Regions from separate parts of the Homo sapiens genome. Here all the other regions are linked to region 2. Evidence: fine-mapped expression QTL. A gene starts in region 2. Each other region holds a variant in brackets. All regions are shown on one strand. Distances are between the middles of the regions. Region 1 overlaps DIAPH1 (diaphanous related formin 1). Region 2 holds the start of FCHSD1 (FCH and double SH3 domains 1). Region 3 holds the start of PCDHA6 (protocadherin alpha 6). Region 4 overlaps PCDHA1 (protocadherin alpha 1).

The links.
Region 1: its variant is fine-mapped to the expression of FCHSD1 in whole blood (INTERVAL, PIP 0.98).
Region 3: its variant is fine-mapped to the expression of FCHSD1 in whole blood (INTERVAL, PIP 0.96).
Region 4: its variant is fine-mapped to the expression of FCHSD1 in whole blood (TOPMed, PIP above 0.99).

The regions. Positions count from the first base shown.
Region 1 is chr5:141,608,777-141,614,361 of GRCh38, reverse strand. The region is part of intron 1 of DIAPH1 (diaphanous related formin 1); the gene reads left to right. Among named protein-coding and RNA genes, the nearest start is that of DIAPH1, 7.4 kb to the left of the region's middle. The variant A/TATTA (reference allele first, on the strand shown) is at 2,288.
Region 2 is chr5:141,648,360-141,653,865 of GRCh38, reverse strand. FCHSD1 (FCH and double SH3 domains 1) reads left to right here and starts at 2,448. Exons shown (of 20, transcript NM_033449.3): 1 at 2,448-2,518; 2 at 2,749-2,846; 3 at 3,462-3,507; 4 at 3,912-3,979; 5 at 4,330-4,471; 6 at 4,558-4,694; 7 at 4,846-4,909. The coding sequence starts at 2,498. ARAP3 (ArfGAP with RhoGAP domain, ankyrin repeat and PH domain 3) reads left to right here. Exons shown (of 33, transcript NM_022481.6): 33 at 1-464. RefSeq lists an enhancer at 3,848-4,426.
Region 3 is chr5:140,827,789-140,833,373 of GRCh38, reverse strand. The region is part of intron 1 of PCDHA1 (protocadherin alpha 1); the gene reads right to left. The region is part of intron 1 of PCDHA2 (protocadherin alpha 2); the gene reads right to left. All of the region lies in intron 1 of PCDHA3 (protocadherin alpha 3), which reads right to left. All of the region lies in intron 1 of PCDHA4 (protocadherin alpha 4), which reads right to left. It also overlaps PCDHA5, PCDHA6 and PCDHA@. The variant G/A (reference allele first, on the strand shown) is at 2,926.
Region 4 is chr5:140,857,659-140,863,243 of GRCh38, reverse strand. The region is part of intron 1 of PCDHA1 (protocadherin alpha 1); the gene reads right to left. The region is part of intron 1 of PCDHA2 (protocadherin alpha 2); the gene reads right to left. The region is part of intron 1 of PCDHA3 (protocadherin alpha 3); the gene reads right to left. All of the region lies in intron 1 of PCDHA4 (protocadherin alpha 4), which reads right to left. It also overlaps PCDHA5, PCDHA6, PCDHA7, PCDHA8, PCDHA9 and PCDHA10, and 2 more genes. Among named protein-coding and RNA genes, the nearest start is that of PCDHA10, 4.6 kb to the right of the region's middle. The variant TG/G (reference allele first, on the strand shown) is at 3,534.

The DNA.
Region 1 (5,585 bases), 40 kb after region 2:
TGTTATATATCTTCCATGAAATGTAATAGAGATTTAAAAGATAAGTTGTATGTCACATATGATTTAGAAGAACAGGTTAAAATAATTTTTATTGATAAATACTAGATGTTATAGAGAAGCAAAGAGTTTGTATATGCAGGTTTATATATCCCTTTTTATGTCCCAGTAGCTGAAATTATTTATGGCTACAAAAATCATCCCCATTTTGAAACAAACTTTGTATTACTTAAGTGGTTTTCTTTTTTCATTGAGCCTCCTTTTCTCAATTACCTTTGTTTGAAAGCAGTAGGCAAAAAATTCATTTTATGCTACCAGCAAAGCATTGGATGTTTGCCCCTCCTTGGGGTTAGGTGAGACAAAGCCACACTCTCCCCTTGCCTGGCTGCCTGTCACCTCCTCCCTGTGTTTTTATTCCTTTCCTACTTACGTGGGGGCTGATTTGAGCGCTATGAATAGCCAGGCCTTTGGGGAATTAGGGGCAGTCAGAAGCTGTTGATAATAAAATTTCTTAAAACTTTTAAGCTAAAATTGAAAAGTAAAGAATAATTACTATGAACATATTTTACTGTATTTCTCCTTTTTTTTAACACGTTTCTTAGGATCAAGAAACCCTTTTTAAGGAAGTAAAAGAATTACTGAAGGAAAAGAGAAATAGACTAATATTTTAATGAATTTTACCACTGATTACAAGATAACTCTCATTGTTCTTTCAACTTTGAAATTCTTACTTCCATCCATTATTAAATCTTACTGTGAATGGTACCCTTAAAACTTCAGAGTTGGAAGGGACTTTAAATGTCATCAAGTCCAAACACCCACTCAGTGCAACAGTCACTTCTGCAGTTGTAGGTTGGAAACATCAGGGGGCTAAGAGGTGGAAATTGGATGAACAAGTGGAGGAAGAGGAGCAGAAATTTTGGATTCTACATTTTCTTTACTAAATTTTAGGATCTTGGGAATGGCTGGAGTAGTAGAAAGAGATTATATAAAAGGAACAGATATACTAGAAGCTGTGAGATTGAAAGGAAAAAGATTGAAGAAATTGGCTCTCTATTGCTTGGCTCTGTAACAGTTAGGGAGAGTCAGTTTGCCCTTTAAATATTTGTTTAAATTTCTTTCCTCCAAGGCGGGGGATAGAACAGATAAGGGGATGCAAATGAGAGTTAGCATAATGGAATTGAATTAAAGGAAACATTCTCTTATGGAGGATGGGAAAATTCCATCCTTGGTGGTGGATATGACTGGTCCTTAGTAGCTATCTGGGAATTTTGTTAGGGTGGCAAATATAGGTAGAATTTATGGTGTCCTGTATAATTTTCTGGATTTCTGATTTTGTGACTTATTTCCTGTCTTGTGAGTAGTGTCATCTGAAGGCTTTGGATTTGTAATTTCTTTTAAGATTTAAAATACTGTAAGGACCCAAGACAGGATGATTTATAAACCATTTTTGATACTGAAGGTCACAGAAAACCAAAGAGCATACGTTGGTAGTTGGCCTTACATCTCAGATCTGTCTGTGTTTTATTTTCAGTGTCAGAACTTTAAGATCAAGTAGAAAAGATACCCTTCATCTCTATTTTTACAGCATTATTGATATATAATTAAAATACAATAAACTGCATATTTATTCATGAAACCATTTCTATAGTCAAGATAATGAATATAGCAGTCACCTTCAAGTTTCCTCCTTCTCTCTTTGTTATCCCTCCCTCTCACCCATCCTCGTCCTCCCATCTCCAGATTACCACTAATTTTCTTTCTGTAACTATAGATTAGTTTGTGTTTTCTAGAATTTTATATAAATGGAATCATACAGTATGAACCCTTTTGCTGGGGCTTCTTTTATTGTGATGTGTGGTCTTTCATATATCAATAGCTTAATCCTTTATATTGCTGAGTACTATTACATTGTATGGATTTACACAATTTGTTTATTCATTTACCCTATTGATGGACATTTGGGGTGTTCCCAGTTTTGGGAGTGCAGTTTTTGTCTGTGAACATTCTCATACAACTTTTTGGGCTGGACATATGTCTTCATTTCTCTTGGGTAAGTACCCATGAGTGGAATGACTGGGTCATTTGGTAGATCTATGCTTAATTGAGAAATTGCCAAACTGTTTTCAAACTGTTTTCCAAACTGTTTTCATTTTACATTCTTACCAGCAATGTGTAAAAGTTCCAATTTCCTGTCAACTGTTAGTATGATCAGTCTTAAATTTTAGCCATTCTAGTGGGTATGTGATGATATCTCAGTATGCTTTATTTATTTATTTATTTATTTATT[A/TATTA]TTTTTTGAGACAGAGTTTCACTCTCGTCGCTCAGGCTGGAGTACAGTGGCATAATCTCGGCTTACCGGAGCCTCTGCCTCCCAGGTTCAAGGGATTCTCCTGCCTCAGCCACCTGAGTAGCTGGGATTACAGGAGGCTGCCACCACACCCAGCTAATTTTTGTATTTTTAGTAGAGATGGGGTTTCATCATGTTGGCCAAGCTGGTCTTGAACTCCTAACTTCAGGTGATCCACCTGCCTGGGCCTCCCAAAGTGCTGGGATTACAGGCGTGAGCCACTGTGCCCAGCTGCAGTATGCTTTAATTTGTCATTCCCTAATGATGTTGAACATCTTTTCTTGTCCTTACTTGCTGTTTATATATCTTTCTTAAGAATCTGTTCAAGATTTTGCCCATTTGCTATCTATGTATCGTCCGTGAAGAATCTGCTCATGATTTTTCCTTCCTTCCTTCCTTTCTGTCTTTTGTCTTTCTTTTGTCTGTCTGACTTTCTTTTGTCTGTCTTTCATTCTGTCTTTGAAATGGTAGTCTCACTCTGTTGCCTAAGTTGGAATGCAGTAGTGCAGTCATGGCTCACTGCAGCCTTAATCTCCTGGGCTTCAGGAATCCTGCCTCAGCCTCACAAGTAGCTGGGACTACAGGCGTGTGTCACCACTTCTGGCTGTCTTTTCATTTTCCTAACAGTGTATTTTGAAGAACCAAAAAACTTAATTTTGATGGAGTCCAATTTTTTTTCATTTTTGTTTTGTGTGTTACATTTCAAAAATCTTTGCTAAAATTATGGTCGCTAAGGTTTTCTCCTCTGTTTTGTTTTTTGTTGTTGTTAAAAGAGAATGGATCTCACTTTGTTGCCTGGTCTGGAGTGCAGTGGCACAATCATAGGTCACTGCAGCCTTGAAACTCCTGGGCTCAGCCTCCCCAGTACCTGGGACCACCATGCCTGGCTAATTTTTCTTTTCTTTTCTTTTCTTTTTTTCTTTTTTTGAGGCAGAGTCTCACTCTGTCACCCAATCTGGAGTGCAGTGGTGCAATGACAACTCAGTTGCAGCATCGACCTCCTGGGCTCAAGCAATCCAGCTGCCTCGGTCTCCTGGAGTATCTGGGACTACCGGCATGCACCACAATGCCTGGCTGATTTTTTTCTTTTTCTTTTTTTTTTTTTTATAGTGGTGGGGTTTCACTATGTTGCCCAGGCTGGTCTTGAACTCTTGGGCTCAAGTGATCCTCCTACCTTGGCTTCCCAAAGTGCTGGCATTAAGGCATGAGTCACTGCACCTGGCCTAATTTTTTTTATGTTTTATTTTTGTAGAAATGACGTCTCGCTAGGCGGGGTACGGTGGCTCATGTCTGTAATCCCAGCACTCTCGGAGGCTGAGGTGGGCAGATCACGAGGTCAGGAGTTTGAGACCAGCCTGGCCAAGAGACCAGCCTGTCCAATGTGGTGAAACCCCATTTCTACTAAAAATACAAAAATTGGGCTGGGCACAGTGGCTCACACCTGTAATCCCAGCACTTTGGGAGGTCAGGGTGGGCGGATCACGAGATGAAGAGATCGAGACCATCCTGGCCAACATGGTGAAACCCCGTCTCTACTAAAAATACAAAACTTAGCTGGGCGTGGTGGTGCGTGCCTGTAATCCCAGCTACTCGGGAGGCTGAGGCAGGAGAATTGCTTGAACCTGGGAGGTGGAGGTTGCAGTGAGCCGAGGTTGTGCCACTGCACTCCAGCCTGGCGACAGAGTGAGACTGTCTCAAAAACAAAACAAAACAAAAAAATTAGCCGGGTGTGGTGGTGGGTGCCTGTAATCCTAGCTACTTGGGAGGCTGAGGCAGGAGAATTGCTTGAACCCAGGAGACGGAGGTTGCAGTGAGCCATACATCATGTCACCCTTGGGCGACAGAGCGAGACTCCAACTCAGAAAAAAAAGAAAGAAAGAAAGAAAGAAATGGGGTCTCACTATGTTGCCCAGGCTGGTCTCGAACTCCTAGCGTCAAGTGATCCTCCTGCCTTGGCCTCCCAAAGCCCTGTGATTACAAGTGTGAGCCACTGTGCTCGGCTTCTCTCTTTTCTTCTAGAACTTGTATAGATTTAGCTTTTAAATTTCCCTCTTTTCTATCATGCATATGTGAGTTCCACATGTTCACTTTGGGATATAAATTGTCACCTGTGGTCAACAGAGAACATTTCTGATACTCTGAGGATTTCGGGACTTTCATTCCATTTATCGTGGAAGCATTTTTTTCTTGTTAGGTGGTGGTGTTAGCAACCTTTTGTTTTCCTGTATTCAGTATACTACAGATTGTGTAATGCCAGTCTTCCTGTTTCTAAATATTAATGAATGTTTAGCATCTTTATAGATAAGGAAAATTAATTCATTCCAGACTAGGATAGGGAATAACAACAGTAGCAGTAATAAAAGCAGTTGTTTGTTGCATACTTAACTGTATCCCTAGTGCAGTGCTAAAGAGCCTTAGATTTATTATCTCATTAATCTCTACATTGACCTTATAAAATAGGTACTGTTATTATTCCCATTTTATAGGTAATGAAACTGGAACTCAGATCAAGCAGCCTGCTTGAAGACATAGAACTAGTTAGTGACAGAGCTAGGATTCAAACCTAGGCCTAGCTGATTCAAAACTCATGGACTTACTCACTACATTGTACTGACAGTTTATGTGTGTCCAGTTTTTGTGCCTGCAGTGTAAAACTGGACTGCAGTGTAACTATTCACTGCTAGGAATTTCTTAGAAAATTTTGGTGGTATTCCCTTAGAGTTCTTTGGTCATCTACAGTCTATTAAAATGAACTGGATTCTCCTAGAGTTCAGTTGGCAGGAAAAAAGTACTAGGCTTAGATGTAAAAAGCGTAGTGGCTAAATGCCTGTTTTTTTTTTTTTTTTTTTGCATTTAGTAATTTAGACTTTGAAGCCATTGGAAGAATCTTAATTAAACCTTTTTTAGGCATGAAAAAATAGCTATTACAGTGCTTGCAAAACCTATCTTTCGCTTGGCTCATGCGTTATTAGGATGATGCTTAAATTATTATTTTTTAATGTAACTGTGTCTCCTTTGTAAGTAGAACAGCTCTAACATCATCACCTGTCAGGAGTTTTAGTTGTTTAAATTGCTGAGAGCCACAAGTAGTGGTAACAATGTTACAGGAAGGGGGAAGCTGTTACTAGACTGTCTCTATAGTTATCCTTTTTATATTTTAAATTTGACGTTTGGTATTCTTAAAGACCTCTGTTTGTGCTCCTGAAATTTGACTGTTGTAATGATTGCAAATGGCTAATAA
Region 2 (5,506 bases):
GCTGGAAAGACTCCAGAATCCAGTGTGGTGCTGTGGAAGGAGCACTGGACTAAAGGCTTCAGTGGCTGCGTGTCCCAGGACAGGTCATGGCCCCTCTCTGGGCCCAGCCCATTTATCTATACCATGAGGTAACTGAAGTAAGGAGAGCAGTGAATGTCAAACTGTGTTTCTTAGAGCCATAAGCCCCACATATTATCCCTGAACAAGGGCAGCTCCTGCTTTATATATTTGATACGTAGGGGTTCCATGAGAGATTTTGGGTTTTAAAGGAATGGTTTTACTGCATTAAAGAAAAAAAATGCTTTGGAAACCAGAGGCCTGGGTGATGTTAAAGTCTATCCTGTCCCACTTCCTACATTCTGGGACTACCGTGAAGCCTGGAGTAGGGAGAGCGAGTTTGGGAGCTGGGACTCGGGGAGTCAAAAATAGATGAGTAATTGTCAATAAACCTGGGAACCAAAAGACTACCATTCTCATTCATTCATTCAACAAATATGTATTGTGCACCTAATTGGTGCCAGGTCTGGGGATATAGCATGAACAAAACAAACAGGGCCCCTGCTCTTATGAATCCTCCGTTGTGGAGGGGAACAGAAAATAGCAAATAAACACATAAACCAGTACTTGAACAAGTGAGTTTAGTGCTGTGAAGAAACTGAACCAAAGTGATGAGCTTGAAGAGTGATTGTGGAGGCCAGGCGCAGTGGCTCACACCTGTAATCCCAGCACTTTGGGAGGCTGAGGGGGATGGATTACCTGAGGTCAGGAGTTTGAGACCATCCTGGCAAAGATGGTGAAACCCTGTCTCTACTAAAAATACAAAATTAGCTGGTTGTGGTGGCACGTGCTTGTAATCCCAGCTACTCGGGAGGCTGAAGCAGAAGAATCACTTGAACCTGGTAGGTGGAGGTTGCAGTGAGCCGAGATTGCACCATTGCACTCCAGCCTGGCAACAGAGCAAGACTCCATCTCAAAAAAAAAAGAGTGATTGTGGAGATGGTCTTTGGATGGGTGGATGGGGAAGGCATCTGTGAAGAGTTGCAAAGTAAGGGAAAGAAGCTGTTGGAGGCGACAGATGGAACGCTGGAAGGAGGAGATTCTGGAGAAAGAAAGCAGGCATGAAGAACTCTGCATTGGAAGGGACTTGGTCTACTGAGGGAACAGCAAAGAGGCTGGAGCACAGTGAGCAGACAGTGGGAGGAGAGTACAGGCTGAAGTAAGAAAGACCAGCAGGGTCTTCCATGCGTAGCCTTGAAGGCCATGGATTCTATTTGGATTTTATTCTGAAGCAAGTGCATTTTAAGCAAGTAAATTATGAGATCTTATTTCCCTTTAAAAAAGAAAAAAAAGGTTGATCACTCTGAGTGCTGTGTGAACAGTGGGTTGGGGTGAGGGCAGTGTGGAAGCAAGGAGATCAGATATTAGACCAGAAGTCTAATAATGGGGGCTTGGACTAGGATGGTGGTCTTGGAAATTGAGGGAAGTGGATCAAGAGGTTTTTGTTTGTTTATTGTTGTTTGAAATAGAACCTGTAGGACTTACTGATGGATAGAATGTAGGGGTAGGAGAAGGCACATTGACTCTGGGTTTCTGACTTAACTGACTGGAGGAAATGCGGTGCCATTTAAAACGTTACGGGGGGAGGATCAGGTTGAAGGAGGTTTAAAAGCTTTAAAAGTTGAGGTTCCTATTAGATATACTAGCAGAGGTGTCAGTGGGGAGTTGGAATGTGAATCTGGAGTTTTGAGACATGTCAGGGGTACTGGGACAGGTGCCTGAGCCAAAGAAGCTTAGGTGAGGAGGATGAGGAATTGGGGAGAGGCTCCTCAGGAAGCAGTGCTAGGGCTGGAAGATCCTAAAGGTGGCAGGGGCTTCCTGCGCATCTCCCAGCTCTCGCCGACTCACTGGTATCGTTTAGTTTTCAGTGGGGCCAAGTCTTTTTCCCTTTGGGCCTGGTTCCTTCCTGGATCCAGGCATCTTTCTCACCCCGCTCACGCTGGCTTTTCCAGTTAAGCGGGAATTAGGAAAAGGTCTGGGACCAGCCCTCTCTTCGTCAGATGCATCTTTGCTCAGGTGCCCAGTGACTCAGTTTCCCTGGTCACACACTGAATTCCTCTCCATTCCTCATCATTAGCTCGGGGACTGGGGATCTACATATGCAAATGAATAATTATCAATAATTACAGGCTGAATCAGTGGTTACACTACAAATAGAACTTAGGCGTCTTGACTCAGATGCCTGGGGTTCTTCCCACCGCCCAGCGGACGCTGCGTCCGCCCCGCCCGCCCCGCCACCCGGACCCTGCCGGCGTATTCGCAGCAGTAACAGGTTTAGTTTCTCGGTGGCCCCCTCTCGCTTCCGCGCCCTGCGACGTCGCCGGACAAGTCGTGGGCGGGCAGAGGGCGGGGCCTGACCTGGCCTGGGGCGGGGCTCCATAGTGGGCGGGGCTTCCTCCAGTTCCGGAGTCCAGTGGCTGACCGCCTTGCTGGAGCGGAGATGCAGCCGCCGCCCCGAAAAGTGAGCTTGGCCCTGAATGGGGACTCCTGGCGGGCTGGGGGAACGGAGGGAGCTAAGGGGGCATCCGACTTGTGGTAGGAGACGGGAAGTCGGAAGGGGTCAGACCCCAAACCAGAAGTAACAGAGGAAAGAGCTCAGCACCCCCCCGGCCCCGCCCCCTCACCGCTCCCTGCGCGGAGTGTTTTTTAGGTCCTTGCGCTGGGGTCTTCATCCTCTCTTTGCCCCCACAGGTGAAGCCGGCCCAGGAGGTGAAGCTTCGCTTCCTGGAACAGCTGAGCATCCTTCAGACCTGGCAGCAGAGGGAGGCGGATCTGCTGGAGGACATCAGGTAGCTCCCCCAACCCCCTTCATTTACACTCACCTTCGTCGTTGTGCGCCACTTCTCCCCAATATACATGTGCTGGGGTGGAGGAACAGGGGCCAAGAGCTCCCCAGCCGACCCATCCACAGCCCTCACCCTAGGCCTGGCCTCTCCAGATACTGGATAGGAATGCTCCCCCACCTAACCCCTCCCAACCCCCTCCCACCCACATAAACACACAGGAACCCTCCCTCAAAGCCCTTGACTCCACACCACTGCCCCCAACCCCACAATCAACCTTAGGGCAGAATCCCTCTCCCTCTTCCAGACCTGTTGGAAGGCTGGCAGACATCGTACCCAGGCCCCCATCAGTCTTCACCTCTAAGCCTACAGATGAACCTCTGGGGTGGGGAGGATCCTGCTGGGGCCCGGGGCAGTAAGGTGAGGGTTTCCTGTGTTGCAGCTGCCCGAGGTGATCTCAAGGACTCCCATCAGTCCCATTCCCTCTGGGTGTAGTTACACTCTAGGAACCTGGCTCCCCCCAACCGCTCCCTCCTGCCCAGAGTAGAGGACTGAGGATGGGAGAACAGGACCAAACATAACCTTATCCCCCACCTCACCCCCGACCTGCAATCTCCGCAGATCCTACAGCAAGCAGAGGGCAGCCATTGAACGGGAGTATGGGCAGGTATGGGACTTTTCTCTGGACCTTACCTCTTGTTCCAGCCTCTCTTATATCACCAGTAATGTCTGTCCATACCTATCCCTATTGTGGTCAAGAGCAGATGCCTAGAGTCAAGCAGACTGGTGTCAGATCCCTGCTGTGTAATTATAGCCATGTGACCTTGGACAAGTTACTTAACCTTTCTTGACCTCAGTTTCTTTCTCTGTGAAATGGGAATAATAATAATACCTTACCTTCATGTAGGGTTGTTGTAAGGATTAAACAAATTAATGACTATAAGGCATTTAGCAAAGCAAGTGGCACATAATGTACCCAAAGAATGGTATGATTATACTCTGATGTCATATTCTGCCAGTTGGGGTGGGTCTTTGAAAGGGAACTTGGTTCTGTGATGGCTTTTTCACCAGGCACTCCAGAAACTGGCTGGCCCATTCCTGAAGAGGGAAGGGCACCGGAGCGGTGAGATGGACAGCAGGTGGGCCCTATGGAGGGGGAGGGCCACAGAGGCCAAAAAGTGATGGGGAGCTCAGCCCCAGGAACCTGTGGGGATGAAGGCCTAGCAAGTGGGGAAGGCACGTGAGCTGTAGGTAGAGCTGACACAGCAGCAGCAGAGGAGCTGACCCAGCAAGGACACTGTGGGTGGGGTGGAGGGCAGGAGTGAGGCTTGTGGCTGAGCTAATGGGCTGATCGATTGATGGGCTCCCAGACAAGGGAGGATGGGAAAGCACTCTGTCTCCCATGGTGTTGGTCAGGGGGCAGGGGGTGGGGGTGGTCTCATGAAGCTGTGGAGTGCTCTCCTCCTCAACACAGACCTTCTCTGGGGAGGGGCAGGACAGTGTTCGGTGCCTGGCGCTGCCTGCTGGATGCCACCGTGGCTGGGGGCCAAACCCGACTCCAGGCGTCTGACCGATACCGTGACCTAGCAGGGGGTACAGGGCGGAGCGCCAAGGAGCAGGTGCTTAGGAAGGTATGGCTCAGAGGTTGGGGTGAAGGAAGAGCTGGCTTGGGACCAAAGGTGGTCTAGGTAAGGACTTTGTGTATGCATCCCAATAGGGAACAGAGAACCTCCAGAGGGCGCAGGCTGAGGTGCTGCAGTCTGTCCGGGAGCTGAGCCGAAGTCGGAAGCTGTATGGGCAGCGGGAACGTGTGTGGGCCTTGGCACAGGAGAAGGCGGCTGATGTCCAGGCCAGGTGGGGTCATGGAGAGTGAGGAAGCCCAAGGTTGGGGAACAGGGAGGTGGGGCTGTCTAGGGGTGGAGCCAAGTCACCAAAGCTGGGCCTGACTCTGATCTCATATTCTCCCACTTGGGGTGGGCCTGACTCCTTTCTCTCATCTGCACAGGCTAAACCGAAGTGACCATGGGATCTTCCACTCTCGGACCAGTCTCCAGAAACTGAGCACCAAGGTTCGAGGGATGAGGGCATGAGTGGGGGCAGGGAAGAGGGAGGCAGAGTAGTCTAGTGGTTTGGAACATAGGTGCATATGTATGAAAGACTGGGTTGAATCCAGGCTCTCCTACTTCCTGGGTGGGTAACCTTGGTTAATTTACTTGATCTCTGTGAGCCTTATTTTCTTCTATAAAATGGAGAGAATACCCTTCTTTTTCAGTCCTTTAATATGCATTTATTGAGGATCTGTATATAATAGGCACTGTTCTAGACATTATGGATACAGTGGAGAACACTACCAATGGAGTTCCTGCCCTCACAGTCTGGTTAAGAGAGACAGACAGCAAATAAATACTTAGATTAAGATGAAAATAAAACAAGGTACTATGATAAAGAATAACAAGGGGGTAGAATTTAGAGGGAGGCCTCTCTGAATAGGTGGCCTAACTGTCAAGAAGGAGCTGGCCTTGCAAAGATCTAGGGGAAGAACATTGCAGAGAGAAGAAATGGTGAGTGCAAAGGGTCTGAGGTGGGAATAACTTTGTAGGCTCGAGGAACTGAGAGAGGGCCAGTATGGCTGGAGTACTGTGAGCAAGGGAACAAGCGCTTGAAAA
Region 3 (5,585 bases), 820 kb after region 2:
TGGATCTACCTTACTGTGTTCGTTTTCTGGAATGTTTCACTCCAATGTTCCCAATGGCATGTAAAATAATTATGTCTGTATTCAGATGCTTTCCTAAATAAGTTTTTATAATTGCTGCTCTCCTGGTGTATTGCAGTAGCTTCTTATTGTGTAACCTGTCCATTCCTATTTCATTCTCCTTCATTTAATCCTTGCAGTCATCTTCCGTTAATACTTTTTATTCGTATTGCTTCACACTTTTTGACAGCTTTCAAATGACTTTGAAGAGTGTCAAAATTACTCGTCTAGTACTCAAAGTTATACAAAAGGTTTTTCTCATATTACTTTTCTTGCTTTATATCACACTCTCTCTTATGGGAACCATGTGCTTTACCCAAAGTGGACTATTCCTCATTTCTAGGTACATTTGGAATTTTCTGTATACTCACTTAAGTTACTCTCTTCTCATGAATACCTGTTAGTCTCCATATTCTCCCAGGGAAAACTCTTTCCATTTTATAACCAGTAAAACATCATGACTCTTCACGGTCTCCTTCAACAAGGGAAAAAGGCAAAGATTTTTTTCCAATTCCAATAACACTATGATGTACCTTTCTAGCACCTCTTACAATATTCTTGCTTTTACTATCATCGTATTTATGTAGGATACTTACCTTTATTTATCTATTAAATTTGAAGCCAGGTCTTGTTAATTCGATGATTCTCAGCAGGCACAGTGTGATACTCTTAAAGACCCTCCTAGGAACTTTTTAAAAAACATTTACTCACTAGCAACGCTATAGTTCTCTACTTCCTAAGAAAGTATGCTGTTTTGAGGCTGTTAGATATCATTAGCTACACAAATGGTGATCTTCAGTATAATCAGAGACAATTCTGCCACTCTTAAGTATGTAGAGTTAGTTTTTTTAAATTTTAGTGCAATATTAATTACACGCTTAAAAATTATCATGTACTTCTTTTAGAAAACAGAAAATACCACTACCAGTTTCTGCCATTTCAAGAATGGAAAATGCTCACATTAGGAAACACAAACCACAACTCAGTCCTCTAATGGCCCTTAAGCAACTTTTAAATGTGGGCAAATACACCATTCATGCTTAATGTAGTCTAATATTTCCTGGGAACATGGACAACACAAAAAGTCAAAACCAACTCCAGGAAATCACTGAGGACTCAGCAGGTTAAATGTCTTTTGAATTCATAAAACTTTTCCACTGTCCAAGTCTTAATTCAATTTTCAACTTTGAAACACACATTTTAAATTGCTTTTAATGTAGAACATGGCATTTAAAATGTTAGAGACATCTCAGATTAAATTGGTAATTATGGCCTCACTATGAATAACAAAAATTCAATCTTTACGTAAAATGAAAACAATATGGAATCCGTAATGAGAGTTTCCTAGCATAAAATGACATAAAGTTTTTCTTTTCCTCTTCGGAAAACTAGTAGCAAATTTTTTAAGCACTTGCTATTTGGCAAACACAGTTATAAGCGCCTTACAATATCAACTTACTAAAGCTTTATGACAATTCTATCATTGAAACTAGTGTTTATCATTCCAACTTTACAGAAGAAACTGAAATAGAGGTGAAACAATCCATCCACAAAACAAAATTGGTAGCGATGAAATTTAGGCAAGGGAGGATAACACCAAAACTCACACTTAATCACTACTTTTTGCTGCTTTTCATTCAAAGAAATAATGACTAGCCAAGCATAGTGGCTCACACCTATAATCTTAGTACTTTGGGAGGCCAAGGTGGGCAGATCACTTGCACCCAGTAGTTTGAGACCAGCCTGGGCAACATGGAGAAACCCCATCTCTTAAAAAAAAAAAAAAAAAAAAAAAAGGTGGGGGGCATGGTGGTGCTCGTGTGTAGTAACTCCAGAGGCTGAGGTGAGAGAATCACTTGAGCCCAGGCATTCGAGGGTGCAGTGAGCCATTATTGCACCACTGTACTCCAGCATGGGTGACAGAGCAAGACCCTGTCACACACACACACACACATACAAAATAGTGAATAGTTTAAATTACTGTGTAGAAACAATGAAAACACTAATACAAAGAAATAGATTTAGACTCCATGAAGAGAAGACCATCAAGTGAAATTCAAACAGAAATAAGAGAGCCGCAATGCCAGAGGAATGCAGTTTTCATATAAATTTACTTGATCACAAGGTCTAAATTCTGTTGAATCACTATTTTTCCATTATTTAGATCGGTAGTAAATAAATCAATAACCATAACAACCAGAAGTATTCAGGCTGATAACTATTGTTTTTGTCCTTTATTCCTCAATGGTTTAAAAGGGGGACAATAAATGAACACTATTGCCTCCCGGAATCACAAGTCTGAAAAGGGAACCACAGATAAAAACTATGATGATCAGAGTTCTTACACAAAATGGATAAAATCAAAGCGTTAGCTTAATAAAAGTGTCGACAGAAAAACATTGAAATGGAAAGTGTAAAAACATAAGTGATACACTGGTGCTCAAATTTCAATATATGATCAAAAAAGAGTATATGTAAAAAAATTATCCTAAAGCTCAAAGGCAAACAAATGAAAATCCCATATAATTAATCAGAAAAAAATGCTACTATGATTCTGAATTAAAATGCAACAGAAAACGACATATCCAAGAATATTTTGGTTTGAAGACAAAAATTCTGAGGTGCAGATTGTGGACAGTGATTTCTAATTTCACTTAAATTATGAATATTAAAGAAGCAAAGAGATTAAAATAAGAAACACAATAAAATGAAAATATGTAATTTTGTAAAATTAATTAAAAATTAAAAACAGAAATATAGAAGACAAATATGAGGAAAACAATTATAAATTTAAAATAAAAATTAACTGTTAATTATGAAAATTCACTTACTTTGGCATCATGATCTTCATTTAAATCCTGATTCTCC[G/A]CCTTACCCATCATAATAGGACAAGGTGAAAGGCTGGGGCTAAAGGCCATGAGATCCATCTTGGGTGGGCCCTCCCCGGAGCACACCCTCTGCCGCCTCTGCTGCGAGTACGACCAGCTCCCCACTGCGCTGGAGCACACCAGCGTGGGCTTGTCCGCCGTGCACGCGCCCTCGGTGGGTGGCGCCGAGCACCGCAGCGCTGTGTACAGCAGTAGCGTGAGGACCAGCAGGCTGGATACCGCGCAGATGGCGATGATCAGGTACACGTTGACATCCACCAGCGCCGCCTCTGGGCCCGCGGCGCCCACCGACGCCCGTGATGACGCCTTTGGAGCCTGGCCACTCTCCACCAGCGACACCAGAACCGTGGCCGTCGCTGTCAGCGCCGGCTCACCGTGGTCTTTCACCAGCACCAGCAGCCGGTGGCGCGGAGAGTCCGCTTCGTCCAGGACACGAGTGGTGCTGATCTCGCCCGTGTACAGCCCCACGCGAAACGGGAAGCGAGCGCTGCTTGCCGGGGGCTGCAGCTCATACGAAAGCCACGCGTTGTAGCCTGAGTCGGCGTCAACTGCGCGCACCTTCGCCACCACTTGGCCTGCACCCAGTGACCGCGGCACCAGCTCGCTCACTGCACCACCAGTACCACCCACCCGAGGCGCCAGCAGCGCCGGCGCGTTGTCGTTCTCGTCCAGCACGAACACCTGCAGCGTCACGTTGCTGCCCAGAGGCGGCACGCCCGCGTCGCGCGCGCTCACCTGAAACTGCAGCAGCTCTAGCTCCTCGTGGTCCAGCGGCTGCAGCGCGTACACCTTGCCGCTCTCCGCGTGCACCGAAATGTAGCTCGACAACGCGCGCTCGCCCACCCGCCGCTCCACCAGCGAGTAGGACACCAGCGCGTTCTCCTGCGCGTCCGCGTCTCGCGCAGACACCGTGAAGATGTGGCAGCCCGGCGGGTTGTTCTCCTTCACGAACACTGTGTACTCGGGCTGCGCGAACGCCGGAGCATTGTCATTCATGTCGGCCACCTCCACAGACAAGCTGGCGGTGGCCCACAGCGAAGGCGAGCCCCCGTCCCGCGCGGTTACCACCAACTCATAGGCCGACACGCTCTCGCGGTCCAGGGCACTGTCCAGCACCAACGAGTAGTAATTCTTGAAGGTGGACACCAGCTTGAAAGGGACGTGAGGCGTCAGCGAGCAGTTCACCTGCCCGTTGGCACCTGAATCGAGGTCGTTCACGCTAATTAGGGCGATGACAGTACCAAATTGAGCGTCTTCACGTACAGGCAAGGATAAGGAAGTCAGTGCTATCTCAGGGACGTTATCATTTTTATCCAAAATTCTCACTAAAACGGTGCAATGACCCGCCATGGGAGGATGGCCTTTGTCCGTGGCGTCAATGAGGATTTTGTATAAGTTTTCTTGTTCAAAATCCAAATTACCCCGAATCACTATTTCTCCCGTATTTCGATCTATGCTAAAGTGGTCAATAACCATGGCTGCAACAAGGCTATTAAAAGAATATGAAATTGCCCCATTCGCTCCTTCATCCCGATCAGAAGCATTCAGTCTGATAACTGTTGTTCCGTTGTCTGCATTTTCGAATATTCTTACTTCGTATTCAGACTGTTCGAAAGTGGGAGCATTATCATTCACATCCAGCACTGTGACCAGCAGCTGAACAGTGCCTGTGAGCTCAGGTTTGCCCCCATCTGTGGCTGTCAGGAATAAGTTGTGTGCAGGAGCTTCCTCTCTGTCCAAGGATTTCTTTAATAAGAGCCCAATTTGTTTATTGTCATCACTGTTTATTTTCACATCTAGCCCGAAGTATTCGCTAGAACTGAGTTTATAGGTTAAGATGGAATTTGAGCCAACATCTGCATCGGACGCGCCCTCCAGTGGAAACACAGAATCTGGCAGCCTAGATTCGTAAATCAGCACTCTTTGTTCCTCTACCGGGAACAAGGGCGGGTTGTCGTTAATGTCCCTCACCTCCACGTCCACATGGAAAACCTGCAGCGGCCTGTCCACGATCACCTCCAGGTGGATGCTGCACTCCGCGCTCCGCCCGCACAGCTCCTCGCGGTCGATCCGAGAATTCACAAACAAAATGCCATTCTGCAGATTTACCTCCAGAAGGTCCTCGCGGTCTTTGGAGGCCATCCTGAACAGGCGCGGCACCAGCTCCGCCAGCTCCAGCCCCAGGTCCTGCGCGATCCGGCCCACGAAGGTGCCGTGTTTGGCCTCCTCGGGTACGGAGTAGTGGAGCTGGCCGCTCCCCACCTTCCAGGCTGCGAGGAGCAGAAGCGGGAGGAGCAGACATTGCTTTCCCAATCTATCCTCCGGGGTAAACACCATGTCAAATACCTCTGGTTTTATTTCCATTAGAAGATCTTCCGCATAAAGATAAAATACTGTATGTTCCGGAATTTATTAATCCATTTCTTCTGCGTCCGCCATCATTCAACAGTCAGGGAATGATGCAGTAATAGAAGAAATTTGAATGTTGGCTAGCTATAACTTCATGGTAGACAGCGACATCATGCGGCTCCAAAAGGTAAGAAATCAATTCACGTAACAGTGCTATACCATATATTTTTAAAACAGTATCTTCTTTTCTCTACTTTTATAGTAAACCCTCCTCACGTTTGTAATTTGCAC
Region 4 (5,585 bases), 790 kb after region 2:
GCCAAAGCCCGCGATGGGACCTTCCTCGCTTGGCTGCTCTCCGCCAGCGACGCCACCACGGTGACGGTGGCAGTCAGCGCCAGCTCGCAGTGGTCCTTCACCAGCACCAGCAGGCGGTGGCGCGTAGCTTTCGCCTCGTCCAGGGTACTCGTCGTGCTGATCTCGCCCGTGCAGAGCCCCACGTGGAACGGGTGCTGCCAGCTGACAGATGCAGCTGTTGCGACAACCAGGCGTCATAGCTGGAGTCCACCGTGCGCACCTTCGCCACCAAGTGGCCTGCATCCACTGAATACCGCACCAGCTCACTCACAGCGCCGCCAGCCCACCCAAGGCGCCAGCAGCGCAGACAAAGTTGTCGTTCCAGCACTAATACCTGGCAGCGTCACATTGCTGCTCAGAGGCGGCATGCCCGCGTCGCGCGCTCTCACCTAGAACTGCAGCAGCTCCAGCTCCTCGTAGTCCAGTGGCTGCAACGCGTACCTCTTGCCGCTCTCCGCGTGCACCCACACATAGCTAGACAGCGCGCACTCGCCCACCCGCTGTTCCATCAACGAGTAGGACACCAGCACGTTCTCCTGCGCGTCCCGGTCCCGCGCGGACACTGTGAAGTCGTGGCAGCCCCGCGGGTTGTTACCTTTCACGAACACCATGTACTCGGGCTGCTGGAACGCCAGGGCATTGTGGTTCACTGTTCGGCCACTTCCACGGACCCGATGGCTGTGGCCAACAATGAAAGCGAGTCCCCATTCCGAGCGATTACCAACAATGGATAGATTTGCTCTCTTGGTCCAGGGCGCTGTGGAGTACCAACGAATAGTTTCTGGGCAGCGCCTTTTGAAGGTAGACACCAGCTTGAAGAGACGTGAGGAGTCAGGGTGCGGGTCGTCTGTCCCTTGGCACTGAAGTTAGGGTCAATTACACTGATTAGGGCTATGACGGTACCCAGTGGAGCGTCCTCCTGTACAGGGAATGATAGTGACTTACTGCTAACTCTGGAACACTATCATTGATGTCCAAGACTTCTATCAAGTCTGTGCAGTGATCAAACATTGGGGAATTGCCTGTGTCAACTGCCTGTATTTGAATCTTTCATTATTTAGTTTCCTCAAAACCTATCTTTACATTTATTTATCCACTGTCTGAATCTATGCGAAAAAGGGCTTCTATGTTAGGGGAGACATCAGTTGCAAAGAAACAATGTGACGGTTTGAACCCTCGTCAAAATCCAAGGGGTTAAGTCTAATAACCAGTGTACCTTCTCTTGCATTTTCCAGTAATTTCACATGATAGACTCCTTTGTCAAACACTGGGCATCATCATTTACATCCAGCGCTGTGATATATAATGCTTTGGTGCCTGTCAGCTCAGCTTCGCCCCCATCAGTTGCTTTGAGCACCAAGAGTAGCTCTGAAGTGACTTACCTATCTGAAAGAATTTTTAAAATACACCTTCAAGTGGTTTTACCTGCTCTTGGTATTTCCAGGGAAAAATAATCATTGCGGCACAGTATGTAAGTCATCAGAGCATTGGCCCCGACGTCGGCATCACAGACACCCTCTAGTGAAACACGATAATCAAGAGCTCTCGTTTCAGAAACAGATTCTTTTGTGTTGCTGAGAACACTGGCAGGTTGTCTTTATTGTTCTTCACTTTCACCTCCACATGGAAAACCTGTAGCAGCTTGTCCACGATCACTTCCAGGTGGATGCTGCACTCCGAGATCCTCCCACACAGCTCCTCGAGGTCTATCAGAGAACTCACAAAAATGCCATTCTGCAGATTTACCTCCAGAAGGTTTCTGCGGCTTTTGGAATCCAACTGAAACAGGCGCGGTATCAGCTCCACAAGCTCCAGACCCAGGTCCTGCGCAATAGGGACCGCGAAGACGCTATGTGCCGTCCTTGGCCTCTTCCAGGATGGTGTAGTGGAACTGGTCCTTTCCCGCTTCACAAAATTCAAGGAGCAGAAGCCAGTGCTGTAGGCTCCGGGATTCCTGGCCACTTTGTCTAGCAGCTAAAATTATGCCTCTCTTTTGGTTAGTAAAACAATATTTCATGACTAGAAAGACTTAGTTCCTCTGAGACCTTTTGGTCCTTGTTCCTGAGGTTCCAAGTGGTCTTAATGGGTGTTTGTAGTTTTTAAAGTACAGGAACAATGGAGCTTCTTTCTGATCTAGGAATAATCTGATTTTCTTCTGTTAAAAAAAATACCTTTCGGCCGGGTGCGGTGGCACTCGGCCAGCACTTTGGGAAGCCGAGGCCGGTGGATCACGAGGTCAGGAGATCTAGACCATCCTGGCTAACACGGTGAAACCTCGTCTCTACTAAAAATACAAAAAATTAGCCTGGCGTGTTGGCGGGCACCTGTAGTCCCAGCTACTCCGGAGGCTGAGGCAGGAGAATAGCGTGAACCTGGGAGGCGGAGCTTGCAGTGAGCCGAGATCGTGCCACTGCACTCCAGCCTGGGCAACAGAGCGAGACTCCGTCTCAAAAAAATAAAAAATAAAAAACAAAAAAACCAAAAAAACTTTTCATGGAGAACAACAATATCCTGTCGCTCAAAACATAAGTGCATTTGATTTCATATTATTTCACTTATCTTCTTCGTTCCTGATTCCTGCATATGTTTATGTTTCTCTTTGTGAGCTTCCAACTCCTTTCCTATACCTTCTTGTGTATGATCAGTACCTCTTCAAAGGTGGGTTTGTCTTACAAATCAGAATTCCATGAAGAGTTTTATCTTGTATGTAGACATCCTAAATAAAGTACTACTGCACCAACTGTATTATCACGTGAATTAATATGAAAAAGATCATATTTGCAGGATAATGGTGTTACTATTGCTTTTGCTTTTTTCAATTTTTGAAATAGGGTCTCACTTTGTCATCCAGGCTGGAGTGCAGTGGCACAATCATGGGTCACTGCAGCCTCAACTTCCCAGGCTCAAGCCGTCCTCCCACCTCACCCTCCCAAGTAGCACTACAGTAGGGACTAAAGGCATGTACCACCATGCCTGGCTTATATATACATAAGTACATATATAGATATATATGTAAGGAGAGCCCATCATATATATATACATATATATATACACATATATACATATATATACACACACACACAGTACAAGATATCCCTATGTCGCCCAGGTTGGTCTTGAACTCCTGGCCTCAAACCATCCTCCCACCTTGGCCTCTCAAAATGCTGGGATTACAGGTGTGAGCCACCATGCCTGGCCTTAAGTTAGTATTGATGGAGAGATTAATGCACTTGTATACCTGAGACTTTTACAATTGATATGAGTTTTTACTAAGTTTTTTATATTACTTATAATATAAGACATTAAGGAAGATTTTTTTTCAAAATATCAGAGGGGGAAGTATATATTTCATAAACCTATTTGATAAAATAACAAATACACTTCTAAACTCTGCATTAACTTAGCATCTATAATTTCTAAGAGCTGGAGACAGGGCATGGAGAGTATTAACACTGAAAGAATGCCATGCTTAAATTCTTGCCACAATTTTTTTT[TG/G]GTGTTCCTAAACTTGAACAATAATTTTAATTTTATTTGAAGCTATTTGTGAAGCACGTACTGAGTAACAAATTCAATCTCCATACTCAAAGAGAAAGGAAAGAAAAAAGTAATTGCTAAGAGCCATAGGCAAGATGACAAATTCATGGCATTGGTGTTTGGTAACACTAGAATTAATAAATTTTTTTTAAAAATGAAATCATGGGTATCAGGTAACAACCAATTTCAGGAAAACACAATTGATAGTGTAGTTTTGTCACTCTGCAACTAAGTTAGCTTTCATTTCTGAGTCTATATCATCTAACCCAACCCTGTTTAAGATGACTAGAGAAGCTATTAAACTATACAATATATCAGATCAGTAGAAAACATTAATTTTATTTTCTCCTCAAACTTTTAATATTAATTCATACTAAAGTATTTTCAGTCTCAAAAGTAAAAAGTGTTCAAATTCTCTTCATTATTAAACATAAGCATGACTCCTTCCTTAAAGTGAAAGAGCTAATACCTGAATATCATAAGCAATGCCTAATGCTGATAAAGGAGCAGATAATGAAGAGCTACTGGATAAAATTATGTAAATAAAAGAAACATACATTTTCTTCTGCTAAGTGAATAATACACACTGACACAGGTACCACTACAACTAAAATAAAAATGGAAAACGTTTTTAAAGTTCAAAGCATTTAACTTAATTGCTAAGATTAAGAAATTTTTACCAATGAACTGCCCACCTACTTACTGCACTATTGAGAAAAAGCTGTAATCACTGAACATTGAAATCTACTATGGCAGTATAAGCTGTGGTACGCTACACATATTCTACACATGGAGGAAAACACATTTTCACTGAAGAGATATAGATCAGTGGAATTTTTTGGTAATGCAAATACAATCAAATCAAAATTTAGATTGGAAATGAAATAACATGAAGTACTAATCTCACAAATATTTGTAACGAAAAGTGATTATGAAAGTAAATCGTCAGAACTGCAACCTATATCACATATTTGTATTGGAAAATATTAGTGTATTCAGAATAAATTGTTATTTAAAAAAATTTAAGTACCAATCAAAGGCTGACACACTGGGTAGGATAAAAAAATTTTAAAACTCCTGGAATAAATTATATTACAAAGGTATCACTAGAAATATTCAAGCATAAATGGAATGTAGACAAAAATGAAATATTCTGATACATATTTGAGAAAATGCGGTAAGAGAAAATATTATTCATAAAGCACAAAAGGAAAATGAAAACGTAATAACCCACCTTCCTAGAGTGGTCCCCTCCAATAGACTGATCTTCCCCGTCCACATCTACCATTGGGCATGGTGGAAGGCTGGGGCTGAAGGCCATGAGGTCCGCCTTGGGCAGGCCCTCCCCAGAACACACCCTCTGCCGCCTCTGCTGCGAGTAAGACCAGCTCCCCACCGCGCTAGAGCACACCAGCGTGGGCTTCACCGGCCCACATGCGCCCTCGGTGGGCGCCGCCGAGCACCTCAGTGCAGTGTACAGCAGCAGCGTGAGCACCAGCAAGCTGGACACCGCGCAGATGGCGATGATCAGGTACACGTTGACATCCACCAGGGCCACCTCGGGCGCCACGCCCACTGAAGCCCGCGACGAGGCCTTGGGTGCCTGGCTGCCCTCCACAAGCGACACAAGCACAGTGGCCGTGGCCGTCAGCGACGGCTCGCCATGGTCCTTCACCAGCACCAGTAGGCGCTGGCGTGGCGAGTCAGTCTCATCCAGAGCGCGCGTCGTACTGATCTCGCCCGTGTACAGCCCCACGCGAAACGGGATGCGTGCACCAACCGCCGCCGACTGCAATTCATACGACAGCCACGCGTTGTATCCAGAGTCAGCGTCCACTGCGCGCACCTTAGCCACCACGTGACCCGCAACCACCGACCGCAGCACCAGCTCACTGACTGCACCGCCCGCGCTGCCAGCGGGAGACGCCAGCAGCGCGGGAGCGTTGTCGTTCTCGTCCAGCACGAACACCTGCAGCGTCAAGTTGCTGCCCAGAGGCGGCACGCCCCCATCG